Linked DNA regions of Homo sapiens: all the other regions are linked to region 2. The links come from fine-mapping of genetic effects on gene expression. A gene starts in region 2. Each other region holds a variant in brackets. All regions are shown on one strand. Distances are from middle to middle.

Region 1 (4,244 bases), 81 kb before region 2:
TGCTCTCCAGCCTGGGTGACAGAGTGAGACTCCATCTCAAAAACAAAACAAAAAACAACAAAAAAAAACAACTCTACAGGGTTTAAGGCTTGTATTGGTTCTTCAACAGTGCATGTGAGTACCAGCATAAAATGCTTTCAAATGCATTTAATCCAGATGAGAGATGGCTTTTTGAACCGTGGAATCCCTGCATTTGGGCACTAGAAAAGACCAAAAGGGTCATTTAGTTCAGAAGTTTCTAAACTGAGAAACAGTTCAGCAAAACGTTAATAGTAATGACTTAAACAAAACAACAAAACCCTGCAGTCAAATGTTTGGAAATTGGTGCGTTAAATAAAATTAAGCAGATGTCTTCGCCATAGCACTTCTCACAACTGGAATGACGTGGATCAGCCCTCTCACATTACAGATCAAGAAACTGAGGTTCACCTAGAAGAAAATATAGGCAATACCATTCAAAACATAGCCATGGGCAAAGATTTCATGACAAAATCTCCAAAAGCAATTTCAATGAAAGCAAAAATTGACAAATGGGGTCTAATTAAACTGAAGAGCTTCTGTACAGCAAAGGAAATTATCATTAGAGTGAAGAAACAACTTACAGAATGAGAAAAAATTTTTGCAACCTTTCCATCTGACAAAGGTCTAATATCCAGAATCTATAAGGAACTTAAGAAATTTACAAGAAAAAAAACAAACAATCCCATTAAAAAGTGGGCAAAGGATATGAACCAACACTCCTCAAAAGAAGACATACATGCAGCCAACAAACATGAAAAAGAGCTCAACATCACTGATCATTAGAGAAATGCAAATCAAGAAGATACCATCTCATGACAATCAGAATGCCTATTACTAAACAGTCAAAAAACAACAGATGCTGGCAAGGTTGTGGAGAAAAAGGAACACTTTTACACTGCTGGTGAAAGTGTCAATAGCTCAACCATTGTGGAAGACAGTGTGGTGATTCCTCAAAAACCTAGAGGTAGAAATACCATTTGATCCAGCAACCCCATTACTGGGTATATACCCAGAGGGATATAAATCATTCTATTGTAAAGAGAGATAGACGTGTATGTTCATTGCAGCACTATTTACAAGGAAGGTCATGGAATCAACCTAAATACCCATCAATTATATACTGAGTAAAGAAAATGTGGTGTATATACACCATGCAATATGTACAGCCATAAAAAGGAATAAGATCATGTCCTTTACAGGGACATGGATGGAGCTGGAAGCCATTACCTTCAGCAAACTAACACTGGAATGGAAAACCAAACACCGCATCTTCTCAGTTTTCAGCTGGAGCTGACTGAGAGAGAACACATGGACACACCGGGGGGAACAACACACACTGGGCAACTGTAGGGGAGTTGGGGGCAGGGAGAGCATCAGCAAGAATAGCTAACAGATGCTGAGCTCGATAACTAGGTGATGGGGGCTGGGTGCGGTGGCTCTCACACATAATCCCAGCACTTTGGGAGGCCGAAGTGGACAGATCACTTGAGGTCAGGAGTTCAAAACCAGCCTGGCCAACATGGTGAAACCCCATCTCTACTAAAAATACATAAAAAAAAAAAAATAGCCAGGTGAGGTGGTGCATGCCTGTAATCCCAGCTACTTGACAGGCTGAGGCAGGAGGATCGCTTGAACCCAGGAGGCGGAGGCTGCAGTGAGCCGAGATCGAGCCACTGCACTAGAGCCTGGGCAACAGAGCAAAGCTCCGTCTCAAAATAAATACATTAAATAAATTAATAAATAAATAAATAACTGAGTGATGGGATGATCTGTGCAGTAAACCGCCATGGCACATGTTTACCTATGTAACAAACTGGTACATACTGCACATGTACCCCTGAACATAAAAGATGAAAAGAAAAAGAAATTGATGTTCAAGTTTGTCACAGGTGACCCTTAAAGTCCTCCTAATGGCTTGATTACTTTGCCTCTTAGTCT[A/T]CAGGACTTTGAAGAAGAAAGGAAATAACTAACCCAGCAAACCAGAACCTGATGTTATAATAATTGTAATAGTTCACATGTTAAGCACTTTTCATGTATTTCCTAATTCAATCCTACACCAACCCTATGATACTTTACTATTTGTCTTAAAAATTGTTCCTGACCAAACCAGCCTTACCAAAAAACCCCCAAACGACCAGAGAGTGTTAATCTTATCTAGCTTACAGGAAAGTCACAGAAATTCAACAATTGGTCTTATGTTCCCGTTTCTTTTTTTAATTAGTCAGATACCATACCCTGAACTTGTTTTAACATCTTGCTTTATTTCCAGAATGTTCCTTAATTCCTTCCTGATTTCTGCAGCACATATAACACCCCCAAGGAATCTTGATTTACTCCCATTCTAGTAGTCATACAACAATGTTCTATGGCTATGTTGATATAATTATAATCTATTCATCCTTCTTTTTATCTGATTTATTTATTTATTTATTTATTTATTTATTGAGACAGGGTCTCACTCTGTCACCCAGGCTGCAGTGTGGTGGCACAACTTCGGCTCACTGCAACCTCTGCCTCCCAGGCTCAAGCAGTCCTCCTGCTTTAGCCATCCAAATAGCTGGGACCACAAGCACATGTCACCATGCCTGGCTAATTTTTGTAGAGACAAGGTTTCGCATGTTGCGCAGGCTGATCTTGAACTCTTAGGCTCAAGTGATCTGCCTGCCTCGGCCTCATAAAATGCTGAGATTATAGGCGTGAGCCACTGCACCTGGCTTATTTGTCCTTTTATATTCACACGTTGTACTGCTTCATTTTGCCAAAATCTCTTGCCAAAAGTGCACTGAGTGAGTTCTCTAGCAATAATCCACAGAAATTTTCTGTTTTTGCTGCTCCAGTATTCTCAATGCCATTCAAAGAATTAAGTTCTAGCTTTAGCACAGCAAGAAATCACATCAGCTAATCTATAAACATCTTCTGATGACATATTCCTTTAGGTACATCTTGTTGAACTCCCAATGCACTAATTTAAAACTTAACACAAAAATAATTTCCTTAGTAGGACAGCATTTCCATCAAATAATTCTATTTGCATAAGGGAAGTTGTGCTGTTGCTACTCTTACCTGGTGGCCCCCATATCAGTGAGCCAGTGGAATGGATCCAAACACTACCTTTTGGCCACTTATAAGCAGGATAAAAATCATCTACTTCTGACACAGATAAATCAAGGTCCAAAAGAGACGAGGTTTCTCTATGTTGGTCAAGCTGGTCACGAACTCCCGACCTCAGGTGATCCACCTGCCTCGGCCTCCCAAAGTGCTGGGATTACAGGCATGAGTGACAGCACCTGGCCTCAAAGTGTGATTTCTAAGAATGACATCTCCATGTATTTGAATTTTAAACACAGGTAATCATGTATAATTAGACTAATAATATTAACTCTAAAAATTATTTTAAACAAATATTTTAGTGAGTTAAGTATTTGTGTGGTGAAAAAATAATGCCTAACTTTTGAAACTGCTACAAGACATACTCTTGATTTGAAAGGAGTTGAGAAGGAGGTTGAAAAAATACAGTTTTCCACTTTATGAACATAATTTTCTTTCACAGGATCAACAGGAAACATAGCTGATAAAACACCCTTCTTAGTGTTCTCATTTGTTGCATATACAGCACTAATATCCCTTAGAAAGTGTATGGTTCTTCAAGAAACTCAAGTCACTATTTTCTTCATGCTTTGTTATTTAAAGGGTGCTTTGTCATTTCAACACGATCTAGCCAACATTGATTTAGGTCAGTACATGGAACTGTTCAAGAGGCTAGGAAATGGAAAAAGCTTAAAACAGTAAGACACATATCCTGTCTTCAAAGATCTTCAGTCATGGAAAGCAAATCGGATTGCAATATATTTATAAATATATATATAATATATATATACACACACACATATATATATTGTTTTTTGTTGTTGTTATTGTTTGAGATGGAGTTTCTCTCTTGTTGCTCTGGCTGGAGTGCAATGGTGTGATCACAGCTCATTGCAAACTCCGCCTCCCAGTTTCAAGTGATTCTCCTGCCTCAGCCTCCCACGTAGCTGGGATTACAGGCATGTGCCACAACGCCTGGATAATTTTGTATTTTTAGTAGAGATGGGCTTTCACCATGTTGGTCAGGCTGGTCTCAAACTCCTGACCTCAGGTGATCCGCCCACCTCAGCCTCCCAAAGTGTTGGGATTACAGGCATGAGCCACCGCACCCGGCCCAAAAATATGTACTTTTAAAT
Region 2 (4,244 bases):
TTTACAATCTCTTTGGCTATAAAACCTGTTCCTATTGTAGATATTATGTTTTAAACAGTATCATCAATATGGCAAGAAAATGTCTTGGAGGGTACCTAACACTCCAACCTCAAAACGACAACCTTGATCGCTTTCAGTTACACATAGGCCATTTTGATCCATCTGTACTGGCTCTTTTCATTTGTCTAAGGGCAGCAAAATAGACTAAAGTTGTTTTCAGACTGCACAAGAGAAGTCTGTTCTTTAGCACTTACCTGCATAACTCAGATAGTGTTTTTAACTTCCTCAACTCATGCTTGGCCTAGTGGGGTCAAAAGAACTACTTGTGAATTCCGTATGTCCAATTGGTAGCTTACTGTTTTTTCTCAAGAGTTTAGCTATACAGTAACGTTGGAAGTCTTGAGGAACTTCAGCTGCTGTCCCTACTTAGCCTTGCAATACTACGGCATCTTTTTTTCTTTTTCTTTTTTTTAAAGACGGAGTCTCACTTTGTCACCTAGGCCGAAGTGCAGTGGCACAATCTCGGCTCACTGCAACCTCTGCCTCCCAGGTTCAAGTGATTCTCTTGCCTCAGCCTCCTAAGTGGTTGGGATTACAGAACATGCACCACCATGCCCAACTAATTTTTGAATATTTAGTAGAGACGGGTTTCACCATGTTGGCCAGGCTGGTCTCAAACTCCTGACCTCAAGTGATCCACCTGCCTCGGCCTCCCACAGTGCTGGGATTACAGGCTGAGCCACTGTGCCCCCGACCTACAGCATCTTTTTAAGAGCAATGTTTTCTGTTTTAATGTGGCCAAGCAATCTCTAAACGAACATGGTCTGACAAAATTGTGTAGTGACATACTTGACAACTGGGTGAGCTTGAGTGTGATACTTATTTGACCATACGGTATTTCCTCTATATGTTTCCTTATCTTTATATACAAAAAAGGGCAAATGATAATGTCTTAGTCATAGGATCAAGTACAACCCAAGTGCTTACTGCTACACTCTACTTGGCAAATTCCACCTTATGAATGTTTCTTAATATATAAACCTAATCTAAACCAAGATAAGCTACAGGTGCATATTAACAATCTTTACTCATAAAGCTTTGCATATTTTTACATACTATTCTTCAAGATGGAAAAAACACCATCAAACTGGCTTATTTTCATAGATGTCTTTATATAGTCTATGATGTCTTCATTCCATAAAAAATCCACACGATTAAATATGAAATTAATGTACCCAGCTATGAGGCTACCGCATTCTTTAACCCAAGAACAAGAAAATACATGAATCAGAGAACTGCAATTACCTACTTGCTGGTCTATTTCCTCATTAGAGTGAATTTTTTGAGGACTAAATTGCATTTCTCTATCTCTAATGCTTACCCCCTATCTCACTGGCTCTGTGTGTTTGAGTGCATGCGCTGAATGTTTATATCACTTAATTTCTGTTCGGAACACGCTGTCTCTTAGCACCAGTAGATCTGGCCTTAGAGCTAAGGAAAGAAGGCCTTTCTAACCCATAAGGGGTACTAATCCTGTACAGACTCCAATATCTCCCGGGCTGGGTACACGCAGGTTCACACCCAGGTGTGAGCAAGATTGCCAAACTATACCTATAAGGCGTTTGGAGGGGAGAGTCCAAAAGTCACGAGACCCGGCTAATTTAGCTACTATTTCACAACAACCCTGATCGTGGTCGGACTTGTTTCTAGGAAGATGCGATGGGCTGGAACTTCCTTCAAGAACAGATTGCAAAAGGCAGCCGACCAGGGCGTGTCAGGTCACTGCCAAGGGAAGCAGCAGCGGAAACCGTCGCCTCCGGCTTAGGCTGCGGAGCGGGAACCCCATTCTCTGAGTTATGTTTCTGCCTAAACACGCAGAACAAAAGAGTTCGTGGCTGCAAGGGTGGCGCGCGGTAGTATTTCTTGCTAATAAAAGGTCCCCACAGGGACATTTTTGCTATGACTGCAGGCGTGGCCAGTCTCCCTGCACAGCTTCCGGGAAGAGGTGGGGATAGGAGGCTCGCCCCGGGGAAGGTTACGCTCGGGGTCCCCAGACCAGGTCTCCGCACGCCCCTGCCCCGTCGCCTCCCGGGAGCGGCTGCAGTCCCCGTTGGCTGCAGACGGGCAGACACCCGAAGTGTCCGCGCCGGCAGCCGGACCGCAAGCGAGGAAGAGCGAACCGCGCTCCCGGGCCTGGCCGAAGCGCTTCCTGTGCCAGGTTTCCGGCTCCGGGTCCCGGGAGGAGGATCGCGGGCCAGAGGCGGAGCCGCCGCCCTGCCGCGACTTTCAGACTCCGACCATGGCCTCGCGCTGGTGGCGGTGGCGGCGCGGCTGCTCCTGGAAGCCGGCGGCGCGGAGCCCCGGGCCCGGCTCCCCCGGCCGTGCGGGACCGTTGGGGCCGAGCGCCGCTGCCGAAGTCCGCGCGCAGGTGAGGTTGGGAGGCGCGCGCCCGGCGGGGCTCAGAGGTCACGGCTCCAATGACAGCAGTGGGCGGAATGAATGGGAGCGGGGAGCACGTGCGTCGCGACGCGGGGGCGCGCGGGGTAGCTCCGGGGTAGCTCCGGGGTGGGACTCCGGAGCTGAGGGGTGCTCGCGGTGGGACGGAGCCGCGCGTTGGACTGAAGTAGGGGCGCCCTACACGGGGTTGCAGAAAGCGGTGTCCTGGGGACCCCGGGAGCGTTTTGGGGGGTGGAGAAAGCGGTGGGATCCGTGTCCTGGGGGAAGCGCAGGAGCGATCAGATTGACCGCTGCTATATGGACAAGGTTAAGCCTGGAGAGCGACTGCAGCTATTTACTTTGGAGTTAGAGGAAGACAGATCTTGCCTGAAATTTTAGAGCCAAAGTGCTCAGAGCTCTCTCCGAGAAACGGAGGATCGAATCGGCCTCGGAATAGTCCGAAAAGGTCTTGTGGAGAATGCAGGGCTGGTGCTAGGGTGGACCGGACCTTAGTTGTCCAGCAGTGGCCTCGGGAGGAGAGCACACCTGGATGGGGCTGGAATGACACTGGAAGGAGAAAGGCCCGAGGCCGTCAGGAGGAGAGAAACCCTGGAGTCATCTAAAGTCAGAATCTCAGCGATAGCCCATTCTTTCAGGGTCTCCTCTGCTGCCTTTGGGTTCCGATCTCCTTTTTCTCCCTTTCTGGTCAGTTTAGCCCCTGTAAATGGACACTGTGAGCCCTTCTGCGCTTTGTAATGATTCTCAGTGTGCCATGGGGTAGGCCCATGCTATTAGCATAACCGTGCAAAATCTATGGACTCACTGTTACTTAAGTTTATTTGAATTTAGTACTCTTTTAATTCAGATTTGGTATACTTTATGTGTCCGTGTTCTCATCAAACATCATTTCCCAGTATGAAATATATAACACTTATAAATATCTACTTTGTACCAAAGTAGATGCGTATCACAAATTATCCAAAACAAGGCTTGGGCCAGGCACAGTGGCTCACACCTGTAATCCCAGCACTTTGGGAGGCTGAGGTGGGAGAATCGGTTGAGGCCAGGAGTTTGGGACCAGCCTAGGCAACATAGCAAGACTCTGTCTCTATAAAAAATAGAAAAAATTCACCAGGTGGGGTGGTGCATGCCTGTAGTTCTACCTACTCAGGAGCCTGAGGGAGGAGGATTGTTCGATCCCAGGAGTTCAAGATTACAGTGAGCTGTTTATTGTGATAGTGCCAGTGCACTCCAGCCTGGGCAACAGTGTGAGACCCTATCTCTAAAAAATCTAAAGCAAAAAAGACGTTTGGAGACCAAGTGGCAGCTGGGCAACTAGACAATGCTAGAGAGTAAAGAGAACAGAATATGGGGGGTGAGGGGCATGTGGGAGAAGAGGCTTAGAGGAGGAAGGTAGGCTTTGCTGTGATCCATTTCAGGACTGTTCTCTCCAGACTTCAGATATTTCTAGTTCCACAGAAGAAGCCAGTATTTGAAGAGATGGGTGCATCCACCCTCTTATGCCACTACATGCTTCTTCTTCTTCTTCTTTTTTTTTTTTTTTGACACAGAGTCTCACTCTGTCGCCCAGGCTGGAGTGCAGTGGCGGAATCTCGGCTCACTGCAAACTCCACCTCCCAGGTTCAAGCGATTCTCCTGCTGCAGACTCCCAAGTAGCTGGGATTACAGGCGTACACCACGACCCCCAGCTAATTTTTGTATTTTTAGTAGAGACGGCATTTCACCATGTTGCCCAGGCTGGTCTGGAACTCCTGACCTCAAGTGATCCACCCCCTCCTCGGCCTCCC
Region 3 (4,244 bases), 44 kb before region 2:
CCATAATGCCAATCGAAGGAAAGCATTTAAAAATGCTGAAAGAAATAAAAGAATCCCAGAATAGAAATCACTTAACTATATGTGAACATCAATACCCAAGCTGCCTGTTCAGAAATTTTTTAAAAAGGAAAAAGTACATTGCCAGTTAATTAGCTTATCATGCTAAGTAAATAAACTAAATAAAATAGAAACTAAGTCAGAAGGCACTTCGTTAGAAAAAAAATCTTCCAAATTTAATCTTCAGTGGTAACAGGCTATTAAGCAGAGGAAGAAATAAACTGGAGCCCTGATGAAATGTAAATTGGAATGATAATTATCACTAAAACAGAGGGATTCAATCCAGCTGCCTGGGGATGTTTCATTATATAAATACAAATTATTATTATCTATGCCAGTATTGGCAGAGGAAGGGCTATGTCTCTATTAGACTTTAGCCAAATTTGGCATTCTGGTTTCTACCAGTAGCACGCTGGTGATTTTTCTTTTCAGAACTCATATAAGTATCTCATTTGATCTCATCACGATCTGAGACACAGGTCATAATAGGGACTACAGGGCTCATTTTATACCCGGTGAACCAGCCAACTTTCATGCAGTTGAGAAAAAGTAAACTGTCCAGGTGAGGCGGCTCACACCTGTAATTCCAGCATTTTGGGAGGCCGAGGTGGGCAGATCACTTGAGCCCAGGAGTTGGAGACCAGCCTGGGCAACATGGCAAAAAACCATCCCTACAAAAAATACAAAAATTAGCTGGGCATGGTGGCACATGCTTGTCATCCCAGCCACTTGGGAGGCTGAGGCATGAGGATCACTGAGCCCTAGAGGCAGAGGTTGCAGTGAGTCGAGCTTGCACCACTGCACTCCAGCGTGGGTGACACAGCGAGATCCCGTCACAAAAAAAAAAAAAAAAAAAAAGACCAGGCGCGGTGGCTCATGCCTGTAATCCCAGCACTTTGGGAGGCAGAGGCAGGGCAGATCATGAGGTCAGGAGCTCAAGACCAGCCTGACCAACATGGTGAAACCCCATCTCCACTAAAAATACAAACTTAGCTGGACGTGGTAGCCAGCACCTGTAGTCCCAGCTACTCGGGAGGCTGAGGCAGGAGAATCGCTTAAACCCGGGAGGCAGAGGTTGCAGAGAGCCAAGATGGCGCTACTGCACTCCAGCCTGGGCGACAGAGCAAAACTCTCTCTCAATAATAATAGTAATAATAATAATAATAATAATAATAATAATAATAAAGGCCAATTAGAGTCATTTCCCTATTCCAGAGCAAAGATGAGCTCATGAACAACCAGGGTTCTCAGTGACTGAGGGACGGGGGCCCCCCAGGCAGCAGACAGAGACCTCACATATCTATGGCATGGTCTTGTCCACTGGGGCTCTTTTGTCAAGAATAAAGAATGCTACTCAGGAGACTGAGGCGGGAGGATCGCTCAGGAGGTCGAGGTTGTGGTGAGCCCAGATCGTGCCATGCACTCAGCCTGGGTGACAGAGTGAGACCCTGTCCCCGTTAATTAATAACAATAAATTAAAATTTCAAAAACTTTAAAATAATAAATGCTGCTGTCGCTTGGTTGCAGGATAAGAAGCCAGCCCTCGGGAACCACCAGGAGCCAGGAGCACCCCCGGCCCCCCAAGGCCCCAAGTCCAGCCTGCCCCACCCCCTCCGGTGCAGAGGTCCTGTGACACCAGTGGCAGCCCCGCCACACCCCCCAAGGCCAAGGGCACAGGCAGCGTGGTCTTCCCCGCCCCGCCCGACTACTTCCTGCCGCCACAGCCACCAATGCCGCCCCTGGAGTACCCAGAGCTCCCGCTGCCGTCCCCGGACTTCATGGAGACCCCCCTGGACTTCGTGCTCCCTCCCCTCGCTGTCGCCAAGAGGCCTCCTATGCCCCACCCCCCCAACAGGCACGAAGCATCAATGTTCACAAGCAGCAAATGAATAAAAGTTAAACGTTCTTCCTACTGCATTTCTATAAGGATTATTGGGTCAGTCGATCTTGAGGTCAA[C/T]ACTATAATTAAAACTAGCTTTCACCATCCCATGCCTTCTTAAGTCTTGGTGACCTTAGATTTTCAGCTCTACCTCTGCGACCTTCAGAATTTTCAGGAAAATAGAGGAAAACGAGAAAACATGACAATCTCTTTCTCTGAGATTCCTGTTGCTTGATTGCTTGGAGCCCTGGACACAGGCTGTTTTGGTTTCGCCTTTTTTTTTTTTTTTTTTTTGAGAGGGAGTCTTGCTCTGTTGCCCAAGCTGGAGTGCAGTGGCGCGATCTCGGCTCACTGCAAGCTCCTTCTCCTGGGTTCACGCCATTCTTCTGCCTCAGCCTCCCAAGTAGCTGAGACTACAGGCGCCCGCCACCACGCCCGGCTAATTTTTTCTATTTTTAGTAGAGACGGGGTTTCACCGTGTTAGCCAGGATGTGGTCTCGATCTCCTGAGCTCGTGATCCGCCCGCCTCGGCCTCCCAAAGTGCTGGGATTACAGGCATGAGCCACCACGACCGGCCTGGTTTTGCTTTTTTAATGCTTGAATAACAGTAATTTTAAAAATAGTTATTCAGATAGTTTTTGAATTCTCTATTATTACAGTGCTGTAAGTACCCTGTAAATAAGAATGTAGGGCCAGGTAAAAGCAATCTTACTGATGTATATTTCAATCTGGAATGTTTTCCCTCAGGGATACATTTAATGCCCAGTTTATCCTAGGCTCTTTTTACCTATATCTCTTCTCTTTCAAATTGGCTTCGGATGGGCTAAAAGGCTATTTTCTTAAAATTAAGGAAGGTAATTAATGGTATGTTTTAATATTTGGGGAAAAGTAAGCTGTAGATCATGCTGTCTCAACCCACGGGCTCCTGTGGCCCAGGACAACTTTGAATGCTGCCCAACAAATATTAAAACATTATAAGCTCTTTGTAGGGCGCGGTGACTCACACTTGTAATCCCAGCACTATTGGGAGGCCAAGGCTGGCAGATCACTTGAGGTCAGGAGTTTGAGACCAGCTTGGCCAACATGGCAAAACCCTATCTGTACTAAAAATACAAAAATTAGCCAGGTGCGGTGACGCATGCCTGTAATCCCAGCAACTCCAGAGGCTGAGGAGGAGAATCCTTTGAACCCAGGAGGTGGAGGCTGCAGTGAGCTGAGATCTTGCTACTGCACTCAATCCTGGACGACAGGGCAAGACTCTCTCTTTAAAAAATTATGAGATCTTTTTGCAATTTTTTTTTTTTTAGCTGATCAGCTATTGCTAGTGTTAGTGCATCATATGTGTGTCCCAGGGAAGCTAAAAGATTGGACACCCCTTCAGGCTAAATGGAAATTTAAAATGAAGCAAATTTAGTTTTAAAACCAAAATATTTACTAACTAAAACTGGCAATGTGTTCTTAATTTTTTTAAGCATATGCTTGAAATAGGATAGAAGGTAAATTTGCTTCACATTAAATTTTATCTCAGGAACAGTAACTCTCCAGTTTTAGTATATCATGTTCTTTTGATGTCAGATACAGTAATAATACGGCTTTTCTTTTTACAAAAATTTTTAAAATTTTGTTTTACTTTAAGTTCCAGGATACATATGCAGAATGTGCAGATTTGTTACATAGGTAAACGTGTGCCATGGTGGCTTGCTGAACCTATCAACCCATCACCTAAATACGAGGCCCAGCATGTGTTAGCTATTTGTCCTGATGCTCTCCCTCCCCTCAATCCCCCACAACAGGCCCCAGTGTATGTTGTTCCCCTCTTTGTGTCCATGTGAAAGACACAGCTTTTCTGATACCTGACTACATAATGGTCTTTATGCAGATCTCTGGGACAATACAGGAAAGGTTCAGCGAAGAGAGCTATGAAAGTTGTCAGAATCAAAATGGAGTCACTCATGTTAAGAAAACGCTGACAAATAGAACCAGGCAAGTCCATGAATAGAGGGTTCTCATGACAATCGTCAACCCTGTGATTTTCACTCAAGTGGAACACAATCTTTGGTGTCTGGCTGTGAGGTCTTTACAAGTACCAGCTATACCTGAGTGGGGTTATTTAGATTGACCCTGAAAATGCAGCAAACTTTATTCCTTTATGAAAATTTTAGTGAGATACTGGAGGTGAGGGGAGCGCAAAAGCTGGGGTGAAATTGGACGTTAGAGAGGAAGTGCAAGGATAATAATATATTACGAACAGTGTATAATTAATAATATAGGGCAGTAATACTACACCACAGCTTATGAAAACTCCATA

The links. PIP is the estimated chance that this variant, and not a neighbour inherited with it, causes the effect.
Region 1: its variant is the best candidate, but not a certain one, in a credible set for the expression of PDSS1 in whole blood (INTERVAL, PIP 0.88).
Region 3: its variant is the best candidate, but not a certain one, in a credible set for the expression of PDSS1 in whole blood (INTERVAL, PIP 0.56).

Annotation. Positions count from the first base shown.
Region 1 is chr10:26,614,188-26,618,431 of GRCh38, forward strand. No RefSeq gene overlaps it. Among named protein-coding and RNA genes, the nearest start is that of FAM238A, 26 kb to the left of the region's middle. The variant A/T (reference allele first, on the strand shown) is at 1,960.
Region 2 is chr10:26,695,413-26,699,656 of GRCh38, forward strand. It overlaps PDSS1 (decaprenyl diphosphate synthase subunit 1), which reads left to right and starts at 2,289. Exons shown (of 12, transcript NM_014317.5): 1 at 2,289-2,428. The coding sequence starts at 2,300. RefSeq lists a silencer at 1,962-2,581 and an enhancer at 2,456-3,344.
Region 3 is chr10:26,651,481-26,655,724 of GRCh38, forward strand. FAM238B (family with sequence similarity 238 member B) reads left to right here. Exons shown (of 5, transcript NR_026794.1): 5 at 1,585-1,974. Among named protein-coding and RNA genes, the nearest start is that of FAM238B, 10 kb to the left of the region's middle. The variant C/T (reference allele first, on the strand shown) is at 2,015.